2 separate regions of the Homo sapiens genome follow, and region 1 is linked to region 2. Evidence: fine-mapped expression QTL. A gene starts in region 2. The other region holds a variant in brackets. All regions are shown on one strand. Distances are between the middles of the regions.

Region 1 (5,362 bases), 34 kb before region 2:
CACCCACCCTCTGCCCCAAACAACCTTTACTCTAGTCCAGAGCTTCTCAGAGGGGCTGTGGCTCAACTGCTCACTCATCCCTGGAGGGGCTGGGACCCGCCTCAGTCGACTTGTGTGGGGACCAGCACTCAAGCAGCCTGCCCTCTTCTGTCCTCCAGGCCACCCCGCCTCCTCTCCTGTCAACTCCTCTTCCTTCAAGGCCCCACACAAGCTACACCGACTCCAGAGGGAGCACAGCTGGGCCCATCTCCCCTGCTAGAGCAAAGCTCCTGGAGGGCAGGGGCCTATCAATCACACGGGGCCTGACCATACAGGCACCAAAAAAGTAAAGTGGACACCAAGATGTGATGGATCAGGCGTGCATGACAGTGGCGTCTGGGGATGGGGCGCGAGTATCACCTCTCTCCGTGAAGGTCTAGTACACTGGTTGTGTACCCTGGAGCCAGACCTGGGTCCTTTCTCCCCATTTACCAGCTGGGCGAGCTGGGGAGGAGCGTGCTCTGGGCTGAGCCTTCCCACCTGTAGCAGGGGGCGAGTAAGGGGCCTCACACAATGCACAGTGGGGTCTCTAGGAGCTGGCGGGTAGACAGCAGGTGCAGCAGGCCCCGCCCACTGACTGCTCCTTTGGCCCTCCCAGGTGGAGGGTCACAAACTCCACCCTCAGAAGTGCTGACAGACAAGAGTCCTCTTGTGCAAATATAAAGAGGTTTATTCATTCTGTCATTAGGATACAAAATAGAACATGTAAAAGGCACCCCTCCCGTCGACCCCACAGTTCAGTGTGAACACCGAGCGCTCGTCCAGGGAAGGCTGCCATGCACGGCGTGGCTCCCGGTGAAGGCAGCCGGCTTGAGCCAGCCTCAGGTCTCGAACATGGCACAGCTGGTGCACAGCACTTTCTCGTACATGTCACTGCAGCTGCGACAGCGTCAGGGAGGGGAGAGAAAAGCTGCTGTCAGGGGCTGAATTGTGTCCACCACCCCCCACCATTCAAACGTCAAAGTCCTAACCCAGAACACCTCAGGACATGACCTTATCTGGAGACAGGATCACTGCGGGCATCATCAGTCTAGATGACGGCACTGACATGGGGGCCCTAAGGCAACACGACCAGCGTCCTAAAAAGACTACGTGAAGAGAAGGACACAGAGAAGGAAGACGACATGAAGATACAGGGAGGGGGCAGCTGTCTACAGGGAACACCAAAGATAACCAGCAGATGCCAGGAGAGAGGCCAGGACAGGTTTTCCATTGCAGCCTCAGAAGGAACCAGCCCTGCCAGCACCTTCCTCTCAGACTTCTGGTCTCCAAAGCCACGTGGCAGTACCTCTTTGCTGTCTATGCCACTGGGTCTGCGAACTCAGTTACAGCAGCCCTAGCTGATTCCCACTGCCGATCAATCCACATGGGGCCCAACCTGGGTTTCCAGTAGGATAGAAGCTCTCCAAAGAAACCTCCAGATGACCTGCCAGAATTCACCGAACCACAATGGTTTACACTGAAGCACATCAAACAGTGCTTTTCTGATATATCAAGACTAAGGGTAGGGCCGGGCATGGTGGCTCACGCGTATGGTGTGGCTTACCTCAGCACTTTGGGAGGCTGAGGCCGGAGGATCACCTGAGGTCAGGAGTTCGAGACCAGCCTGGCCAACATGGTGAAACTCTGTCTCTACTAAGAATACAAAAATTAGCTGGGCGTGCTAGCGCACGCCTGTAACTCCAGCTACTTGGGAGGCTGAGACAGGAAAATTGCTTGAACACAGGAGGTGGAAGTTGCAGTGAGCCAAGATCGCACCACTGCACTCCAGCCTGGGTGACAGAGCGAGACTCCGTCTCAAAAAAAAAAAAAAAAGAAAGCTCTAAAGGTAAAGGCTAGGGAACCCGGCAAAACACAGGGAGAAAGTGATTAAGAGAGATGTTGCGAGGAAACGGGACTGGCAATGGCTACCCCAAACACGACAGGGCCGTGGAGTCAACAAGGCAGCCAGAACTGCTTGCCACTTGGTTTGCAGAGTTTGCCAGTAGTATTGTGGGTGAGCCGCGAAGACAGCCCCTCACCGCCACCGGCAGCCAGCTGGAGAGCCCTGCAGAGGACGGGCCAGGCGTGGGCCAGTGCAGGCCATCAGCAGGACGCCAAAGGCTGCTGGGCTGCATCTGTGTTAAACCAGAGCCGTGTGGACAGATCCCTGTTTTCCCCCACTCCTGCGACGCCTGGTCCTGAAGTAGGAAATGGCAGGGGAGGGGGTAGGAGACTGCGGGTGCCACCAGCTGGGCTGCCTGGCCTGGGAATGCCACTTCTGGCTTGTGACCTGGAACAAGTCATTTATTTGTGAAAGAGGGCAGAGCCCACCTCCTGTGCTGTAGCTGCGATAAAAGAGTGTGTCCACAGTGGGGACAGTGGCCCACTCAGCTCAACGTGAACTCTGTGGGTATGGGAGGAAGCAGCAGCAGAAAGTAGGTAGAGGCCAGGAGGAAATGGGCGCAAGGGAGTCCCTCAAGGATGGTGTGCAGGGCAGGAGTGGGAGGCCAGCCACGCAGCGCTCTGGGACCCACCTCTCCGCTGAACCTGCCCATGGCTATGTTCACTTCTGCTTTGGTGAGAGGGCCACCAGACAATGAGAAAACCCTGCCCTTTTCAGTTTACTTCTAGGAAAGAAGATGAACTCAGCGGGTGAAAAGCAAAGACAGAGTATCCCACATTCATAGCTAGCCCTGCAGATGATTCCCAACCTGGATGGGGTGCGTTACCCCACTCCTGCCCATGCTGAAGCCATGGGAGCCGATCACTGGCACGCGGCGCTTCTCCCTGGTGCTGCCCCCCCTGCCCAGGGCTCTCCGTCTCCAATGAGTCTGGGCCTCTGCCCCGACTGAAGAAAGGCTCGAGAGAAAGGACTCGAGATGTAACATGTGGTTTCTATTTTAGATGGACAATTTCAGACATTGTTTGGACTAAGCTTGCTTTGGGTCTATGGAGCCAGTTCCACATGTGTCTGGATGAAGTCATCTTTCTCACGGGGCAGGGCAAACAGGCTCCACACTGTCCACTCCCATCCACCAGGTGAGTAGCCCCTAGGGTGAGAACGCCCCTCCCCACCTTAGGAGTAAGGACGGGATCCAGCCAGCTGCAGCAAACCCACCCACAAATGGGAGACTAC[A/G]CAAACACTCCACTTCCTGCCTGAGAGGGTCTACAACCAAACGGCACGCATGACTGTGGTGAAGCTGCGGTGTGCACCTGTGTCACCAACCAGGGGCTCCTCGGACGGGGGGAGGGGGGGCTCAAAGACCAGAGGAGGAGGAGGTGGGGGTGCTCAAAGATCAGAACAGGAAGTGGCTGAAGACAGGGACTAGAGCCGGATACAGAGCAGGTCATCTGTGAGGTTCAGCTTTCCCTTAGAGAGGATTACTAACCACTAAAGTTGGGCCAAGCATCTATTGCCACCATGTCCCGTTAGGCAATGCCAGATGGCACTGCATCAGGGGCCACACGTGTGTGTTCTGGGCCCACATGGGTGACCCACCCGTCCCCCATCACGGCTTGCTGGGGCTATGGGATCTCAGCAGCTCCAGGGACTGAAGTACTTACTCCACGAGGCCACACAGGGTACAGGCCACGGAGCCGCAGCCCCAGCAGGTGCGCACACACTGCCCGCACAGGGCTCGCTCACACTGACCGCAGACCGCCTTCCCATCCACGGCTCGCACGCATGAGGAACAGGCAATGGACGCTACCCCAGATGGGTCTGTGAGGAAGAAACGCCAAGCCGTCAGGCTGCAAGGAGACTGGAGTTTCCGGGACTGCCGGGCTACCTGCCTCCATGCATACCTGAGGGCAGAGGGCTCTGACCTGCCTACCCCATCCCCACCTACACTGGATCCTTCTGACAACCCGTGAGCCTGGTACAGTGCACAGGACCCCCGTTTTACTACAGAGATCCAAGGTGAGATATGCCTGTAGTTGACTCCAAGTTCAGTGCTCTTTCCCTTACCAGGTCCCTCTGCTACCTGGAGGCTAGTGCTGGAAGGACCATTCTTCCCCTGTTGCTTGTCAGAACTCCATGTGTCCCATCTGGGTCTCAGTGTGGCCCACTGCCTTACTGGTTAACAAAGAGGTGCCTGGGCTCCTCCTAGACACACCAACCAGACTTGAGGTAGAGTCGGGGATTGCATTTCTAACCAGCAACACAGGTGATGCTCTGAGACCCCACACTGCATAGGGATGGGACTGGCATGTTTCCAGCCTTGTGGGACTATCTGAGGGGGCTGCAGGCGGAAAGCAGACGGGATACCCGGGGAGTCTCTGCTGCTTTTTTGGCCCAGTACTTAGAAGCTGTTTAACAACTTCCAGTCTTGAATGTGAGACCTCCTGATAACAGGAGCCTTCTGAGCCAGAAGGCCAAGCTCTGGGTCAGAGTCCTGCTTACCCAGGGAGGAAAAGCCTGACCTTGCAAATCAAGAAAAATGCTCGTGCCACCACCTGCCCTCAGTGCCACAGCCACAAAGGGCTGCTGGTGCCACTCACCAGCTTCGGAGGCCTGCCCAAGGCTCCTGATCAGGCGGCCGTCTGGTCCAATCAGCATCTGCCCACGTGCAGCCCTCGGGGCCCCTGTAGGGCCAGGCTTTGGGGACTCTGGCAGGTGAACGACGGCACAGCCTTCATCCCACACGTGGTCCAGGTAGGCCTGGGCCCCGAGGAACAGGAGTCGCTTGGTCTTCTCTGGGGGAAGATAAATCATTCTCACGTCCTTCACTGTGTACCAACGAAGCCCCTGCATGGCCATTGAGTCTTTCTAGCCTCACATGAACCCCATCGTCCTCCTGTGTGCCCTCTGTCTCCCAGTAACCCCAGCCTGTGTTGTGCCCTGGCGAGCTGGGTCCTGCTCTGCCTCTATGCTGAGAATGCTTGTGCGTCCTTTCCTTACCTGGCTTAGCTGTCATCTCCTCCAGGAAGGCTCTGGCCCTGCAGCCCCACCTGTGTCTGATGCAAGGGTTCCCTCTCCTATCACTCGGCTCATTTTCTGCAATTCACGGCTGGCCTCGCCTCACTAAGCTTGTCCCCTTTCTCCCTTTTCTGCTTCCCCAGCACTCCCCACCTGGAAACCAGGCTCTGTGGAATGCACAGAGGGAGCTCTGCACTGTGGAGCACTAATTCACAAAACTCGTCCCCTGCCAAGGAAGCAGCCAGAGGCTTGGAGCTGGGCCTACAGCCTCTGGCCAGAGCACACCCCCTTCACCTGCTACAGAGTTGCTGGCAAGACAAGCATCCCAGAACCTTCCAGACCTCTTGTTCTAGAACACCCACCCATCCCTGGGAGCAGTGGTTTTCCATCAGGCCACAGTTCAGTCACCTGGGGAGCTTTGAA
Region 2 (5,315 bases):
CCAAATGTGGCAGTGACTCATTCCTCCACGCCTGAGCCTCTGTTCCCCTGTGAAGGAGCTCTTCAGGATGATCCTGCCTCACTGGCTCGTGAGGAGGCTGCAGGGGGACAGGTGTGGGCTCCAGGGACAAACCTCTTTTATTCCCACTCACTTGGAGAGCCAGGGGCTCCCTCAGGCTATAGGGTGGCCTGGTGGGGGTGGCCTGGCGGGGGCAGCCTGGTGGCCGGAGTGCGGGATGGGCTCCAGCCTGCTGCATCCTCCGTGCTCCCGTGTGCAGCTGCGAGTGAGCGGGGCTGTGGGGGGACTGGGTGGGGGGCACAGCAGGGAGTGCCCAGATCCAGAACCATCTCCACAGCTGGGAGCGCGGAGCCAGGTGAATGCTGTGTACAGCACCTGTGGGGGCCCCAGCCCGCCCTGCAGAAGTGCATGGCGCCCACCAGAGCTGGCAGCTCATAGGGAGGGGCCTGGGCCTCACGGGAGCAGAGAGGTCTAAGGAGGGTCAGGGGCCGGGGCTGCCCCACGCTGAGGGCGCCCTGGAGGGTGAAGAGCAGTAGAGCGCTGGACATGCCCCCTGGCGGCCCAGGACAAGGTGGCGGGGCAGAGGCAGTGTGGAGGGAGCATGGGCTGAGGACCACCTCTAGGACCTGGGGGATCTCTGGAGCGAGGGATGTGCTTGCCTGCTGCTTAGGACGGAGAGCAAGGGGGGAGGTCCCCCACTGTTCCAGGAAGAACTTTCTAGGAAGCCACAGTCCCTTCCGGCAGGAGGGGCTCGGACAGCCCTGAGCCACACAGGGTGCTGGGCTGACTCCCTTCGTCTTGGGCCCCAGCCCTCCTCTCTGGAGCTCAGGAAGGAGGCCACAGAACCCGGAGAAGGGACGGTGCGGGGGCCCTTGTTCCATTATTGGCAGCAGCCCCAGGCAGGCTCCAAACCCCAGACGCGTGCATCCCAAAGTTGACCCCTTTGTGCCTGGAGCTGTAAGTCAGCCCATGGGCAGCAGACTTGGCTGCCCTGGCATGGGGCATGTAGCCCCAGGGTGGCGGCCCGAGAGAGTGCCCAGTGTGCAGCTCAGTCAGAACAGATGGGGGCGCTGAGAGCAGCTGCCGGCTGGCAGAGGCCCAGCCCTGGGCCCTGGGGGACAAAGCAGGTCTGGCCTCCTCGGTGGCACTGCCAGCCACGGGGTCACCCTGGCCAGAAGTCTGTGGCCCTCCCTCTCCCATGTCTGGCTAGGATCGTCCCAAGCACCCTCCCTCAGGCGCGGCCCCAATTGCCCCCCAGGACGGCCTGGCCCCCTTCCACCTCTGCCTCTCCTTGGCTGACTCACCGGGGTCACCCCCACCCAGCAGGCAGCTTTTACCCCCTCCACCACCTGCAGACCTTGCGGGGAGCCAGGTAAGCCCTATCCCAGACCCAGACAGGCCCCAGGTGATCACTGTAAATGAGGAAGGGGGGTGTCTTGGGGGTCCTCAAACCATCCTGGGGCTGGGTCCTCTGGTTCCCCCATGGAGGGTCCAGCGTCACACCCATGGCATGCGCCACCCCCTAAGGATCGGGTGTCCCCAACTCAGCGACTTGTATTTATAGCTGTGCCCTGGCCCGCTGCCGGGGTGGTGGAGTAGGGGTGGGTGGAAGGAGGGCGGTGTGTGTGGGTCGGGGGTTGTGTGAGTGGTGCGTGTGCGTGCGTGGGTGGGGTGGCCCTGGGAAAGGTGCTCCCGGAAGGAAGGCATCCAAGCGGGTGAGTGACCGGCCAGGGCATGGGAGGACAGGGGCCGTCTGGGTCGGGGGAGGGGGGCTCGCTGGGCGGTGGGGGAGGGACCCGGCGCCCCAGCCCGCACCTGGCAGCGGCTGATGATGTCGGCGTCCGTGGCCAGCAGGTCCACCACCTTGCCTTTGCCCTCGTCCCCCCACTGCGCGCCCAGCACCACCGTCACGCGGGAGCCGGTCGCCGCCGCCTCCTGCTGCAGCCGCCCCCGCTTGACGCCGCCTGCGCCGGGGGGCCGGTCGTTGGAGGCTCGGGTCCCCGACATGCTGGCTTGGCTCTTCCGCTGCGCTGGCCCGGCCAGGAGCCCGCCGCCGCCGGCGTCCGCGCCATTAAATGGAGCCGGGCCGGGGCAGGGGGCGGGGCAGGGGGCGGGCCGGGGGAGGGCCAGGGCGGGCGCAGTGACGCCCCGGTGACCTCCGGCCGCCACATCCCCGCCCCCTCGCCGCTGCCCGGGAAGCCCAGTTGAGTCTCGAGCACTTTAGGGGTGAGGGGCCGCACGGACCAACGGCCAGGCAGGCAGATGGCCTGGGGAGCCGCCCCCACGAATTTGCCAACGGAGGCAGTTTCTCGCTAGCCCGTCGGGGACCAGGGCTTGTGCACCGCGACCTCACCCCCCACCAAGCCCTTGCCGGGCCCAGGACTTCGGGGTTCCAGCAACTGCAGGGGTGGTCGTTCCCTCCAGGGAAGGAGTGCGGTTTGCAAAAGGGGAGCTGCGTCCTGCACCCCACCTAGAGGGTCCGCACTCTCGAGGAGCGCACCTGCCCCCCGTGGAACCCCGAGTGCCCTGGGCGCGGGCGCGCCCCCTGGCGGCCGCGAAGAGCCGCGCAGCGCGTCCTCTCCGAGGACTTTGTGTCCCCGCAACTGCCCGCACTTCTGCCCCACGGCAGGGGCCCCGCGTCCCGCCCGGGCGCGCTGTGGCTCGGGCCTGGCTGTAGCGAGCAGGCGGGCTCCAGCATGGAGCTCCGGCCCTCAGCACCCAAGTCTGGGGTAAAGGGACCCATCCTGTCAGCGTCACCTGGCTGGCATGGGAGCAACCCCCAGGGATGCACGCCACCGTGGGGCCCAGGTTCCCAAGAGGTCCCACACCAGACCTTCCCGGCCCAGCCTGTGGAGGGACTAGGCCCCAGAGGGAGGCGATGGTCTGCGAGGCTCCCGTGTTCCCGGCTGGTTGTCCTGTCTCACCCATCCCGCCCCACCCCTCCCAAGTAGATGAGGCTTGGAGGAAGCCAGCCCTGGTGGCCAAGAGAAGGGTCCTGGGGCCCCAAGGGCGGAAAAGAGAATCAGGTTCTTGCTTCAGAGCAGGGAGGCGGGGTCCTTTGTTCCCTCCCTGACGGCTCTCAGTTGCCAAAGAGCCTGGAGCCACGAGGCCCCTTGGGCTCAGGGCAACTCCAAGGCTAGTGACAGGGAGTCCATGGAGACGGGACACTCCCTGTGAGGAAGGAGTGGAGCTTGGGCCTGTCACAGCAAAGGTCGCTCACACTGAGTTAGTGATTCAGGTGCAGCCAAGGACACCACTGCCCACCCCTGCCTGCAGCCTCCCCACCCCTCCTCTCTTGGCACCTGACCGTGCCCCAGCCTGGGGGAGAGGGGCTGTTTGAAGCCTGGCCTCCTGCCCCCTGCACCCATGTCCCCAGTCCCCTCTTCTTCCACTGGGCACATCGACACTTCCTCTCCCTCAGCATCCTTGCGGGGAAAATGCCGTTGTATGGGTTCCAAGCAGTCAGTGGGGCCTCAGTGGAAAAGCAGTCTTCATGCATGAACTTCCTAGTGCCACCTTGGGGGTGACAGCTGGTCGGGGGTGAACAGACCACCGGCCCCAGCTTGGGAAGGGGCTGGAGCAGGGTTGGAGGGCTCTGAGATTTGGCAGAACCTGGAGCCTGCTGAGAAGGGGCTGCACCTGAGGGTGGGGCAGTGGGTCTGGGGGTGTCAAGGAGGGAATTTGGGGCACAGCAGAGAGCTGTGCAGGTAGGGAAGAGGCAGACTGCAACAGGAGAAACCAAGAGCGTCATGGAGGTTTGTTTCCAGATGAGAGAAACCGACAATGTTAAATGTCCACCAGGAACCACAAAGTCCCATCAGACAAGGAGGTGCTGCCAAGGCCTGGGGGGGGCCACCAGCTCTGAGCCCTTCCTGGGGACCCCTGGGGCTCTGGGCTAGCAGATGTCAGATAGAGGCTTGGGGGACTGGGGGACATGCTAGACCACCTCACTAAGGGGGCTTGGACTGACCCTGCAGAGGCGAACGCTAGTGACTCACTGACTTCTCCAGGCCCGGACTATAAATAGCCACGGGCCCGGGTAGGGGCAGGGAGTTGGGGCTTTTCTAAAAACAGTCCTGCCCAGGCCCAACAGCTGGGGCCCCTGCCAGTCACACGGCTCAGCCCGAATTAGAACACCTCCACCCCTTACCCCCCACAGTGGGCCTGTCCCCAGGTGTGGGCAGCACGGGAGCCACCGAGCTTGGGGCCATCCATCTGGGCCCTGCTGTCTCGATGTGTGACCTTGGGCAAGAACGAGGGTGCATGGGTGTGTCCACCTGTGGGTTCCACTCTTTGGGGGCCACACCTCCCAGTGGGACCATCGCACACAGTGGCCCAGGACACACAGACACCCACAGCCACCTGCATACACGCGTGCAGCCACGGAGCCTCGCCATGCAAGGCACCCCCAGAGCTCCTGTTGGTTTTGGTTCCTTTGCTGGCTGTAGCCCACTAAACTGACTTCTCATGGAGCACAGAGGAAAAAGAAAAACCAGGCTCCAGGAAGGGCAGCTCCTCCTGTCACAGGGTCCCCAGTCCCACCTCTCCAGGCAGGAGGGGCGATGGTCTCACTTGCTGCAGATGACCTTGTAGGTGACCCCACCCAATACTCCATAGTCCAGTTTTACTGGCAGTTCTGTGGAGGGTGGGGAGGGGGAGGAGTGGAGCTATTTAACTGAAAAACAATAGCATGGATGGGAATGAAAAATGGTGCAGCTGCTTTGGAAAACAGTTAGGCAGTTACTTAAAAAGTTAAACATAAACTTAGCGTGTCGCCCAGTTGTTCCTCCGCTACGAATCTACCCCAGAGCAACGAAAACTCGCAGCATCCACATGAGACTACACAGACGTCCACAGCAGCATCCACACGAGGACGACGCAGACGTCCACAGCAGCATCCACACGAGACTACGCAGACGTCCACAGCAGCATCCACACGAGGACGACGCAGACGTCCACAGCAGCATCCACACGAGACTACGCAGACGTCCACAGCAGCATCCACACGAGACTACGCAGACGTCCACAGCAGCATCCACACGAGGACGACGCAGACGTCCACAGCAGCATCCACACGAGACTACGCAGACGTCCATAGCAGCATCCACACGAGGACGACGCAGACGTCCACAGCAGCATCGAGGACGACGCAGACGTCCACAGCAGCATCCACACGAGACTACGCAGACGTCCACAGCAGCATCCACACGAGACTACGCAGACGTCCACAGCAGCATCCACACGAGGACGACGCAGACGTCCACAGCAGCATCCACAGGAGGACGACGCAGACGTCC

Which allele goes with the higher level. Alleles are on the strand shown, and positions count from the first base shown. SD is a standard deviation of normalised expression in the study named.
With allele G in place of A in region 1, the expression in sun-exposed skin of the gene that starts at base 2,067 in region 2 is lower (moderate effect, 0.55 SD a copy in GTEx).

The links. PIP is the estimated chance that this variant, and not a neighbour inherited with it, causes the effect.
Region 1: its variant is the best candidate, but not a certain one, in a credible set for the expression of ADSS1 in sun-exposed skin (GTEx, PIP 0.59).

What each region holds. Positions count from the first base shown.
Region 1 is chr14:104,754,984-104,760,345 of GRCh38, reverse strand. It overlaps SIVA1 (SIVA1 apoptosis inducing factor), which reads right to left. Exons shown (of 4, transcript NM_006427.4): 2 at 4,522-4,716; 3 at 3,586-3,742; 4 at 692-918. The coding sequence ends at 861. It overlaps LOC107987209 (a long non-coding RNA gene), which reads left to right. Exons shown (of 3, transcript XR_001750915.3): 2 at 2,926-3,940. Among named protein-coding and RNA genes, the nearest start is that of SIVA1, 4.5 kb to the right of the region's middle. RefSeq lists enhancers at 1-2, 3-951. The variant A/G (reference allele first, on the strand shown) is at 3,158.
Region 2 is chr14:104,720,981-104,726,295 of GRCh38, reverse strand. ADSS1 (adenylosuccinate synthase 1) reads right to left here and starts at 2,067. Exons shown (of 13, transcript NM_152328.5): 1 at 1,834-2,067. The coding sequence starts at 2,025. INF2 (inverted formin 2) reads right to left here. Exons shown (of 23, transcript NM_022489.4): 23 at 3,761-5,315. RefSeq lists enhancers at 320-1,020, 3,817-4,316 and a silencer at 1,851-2,260.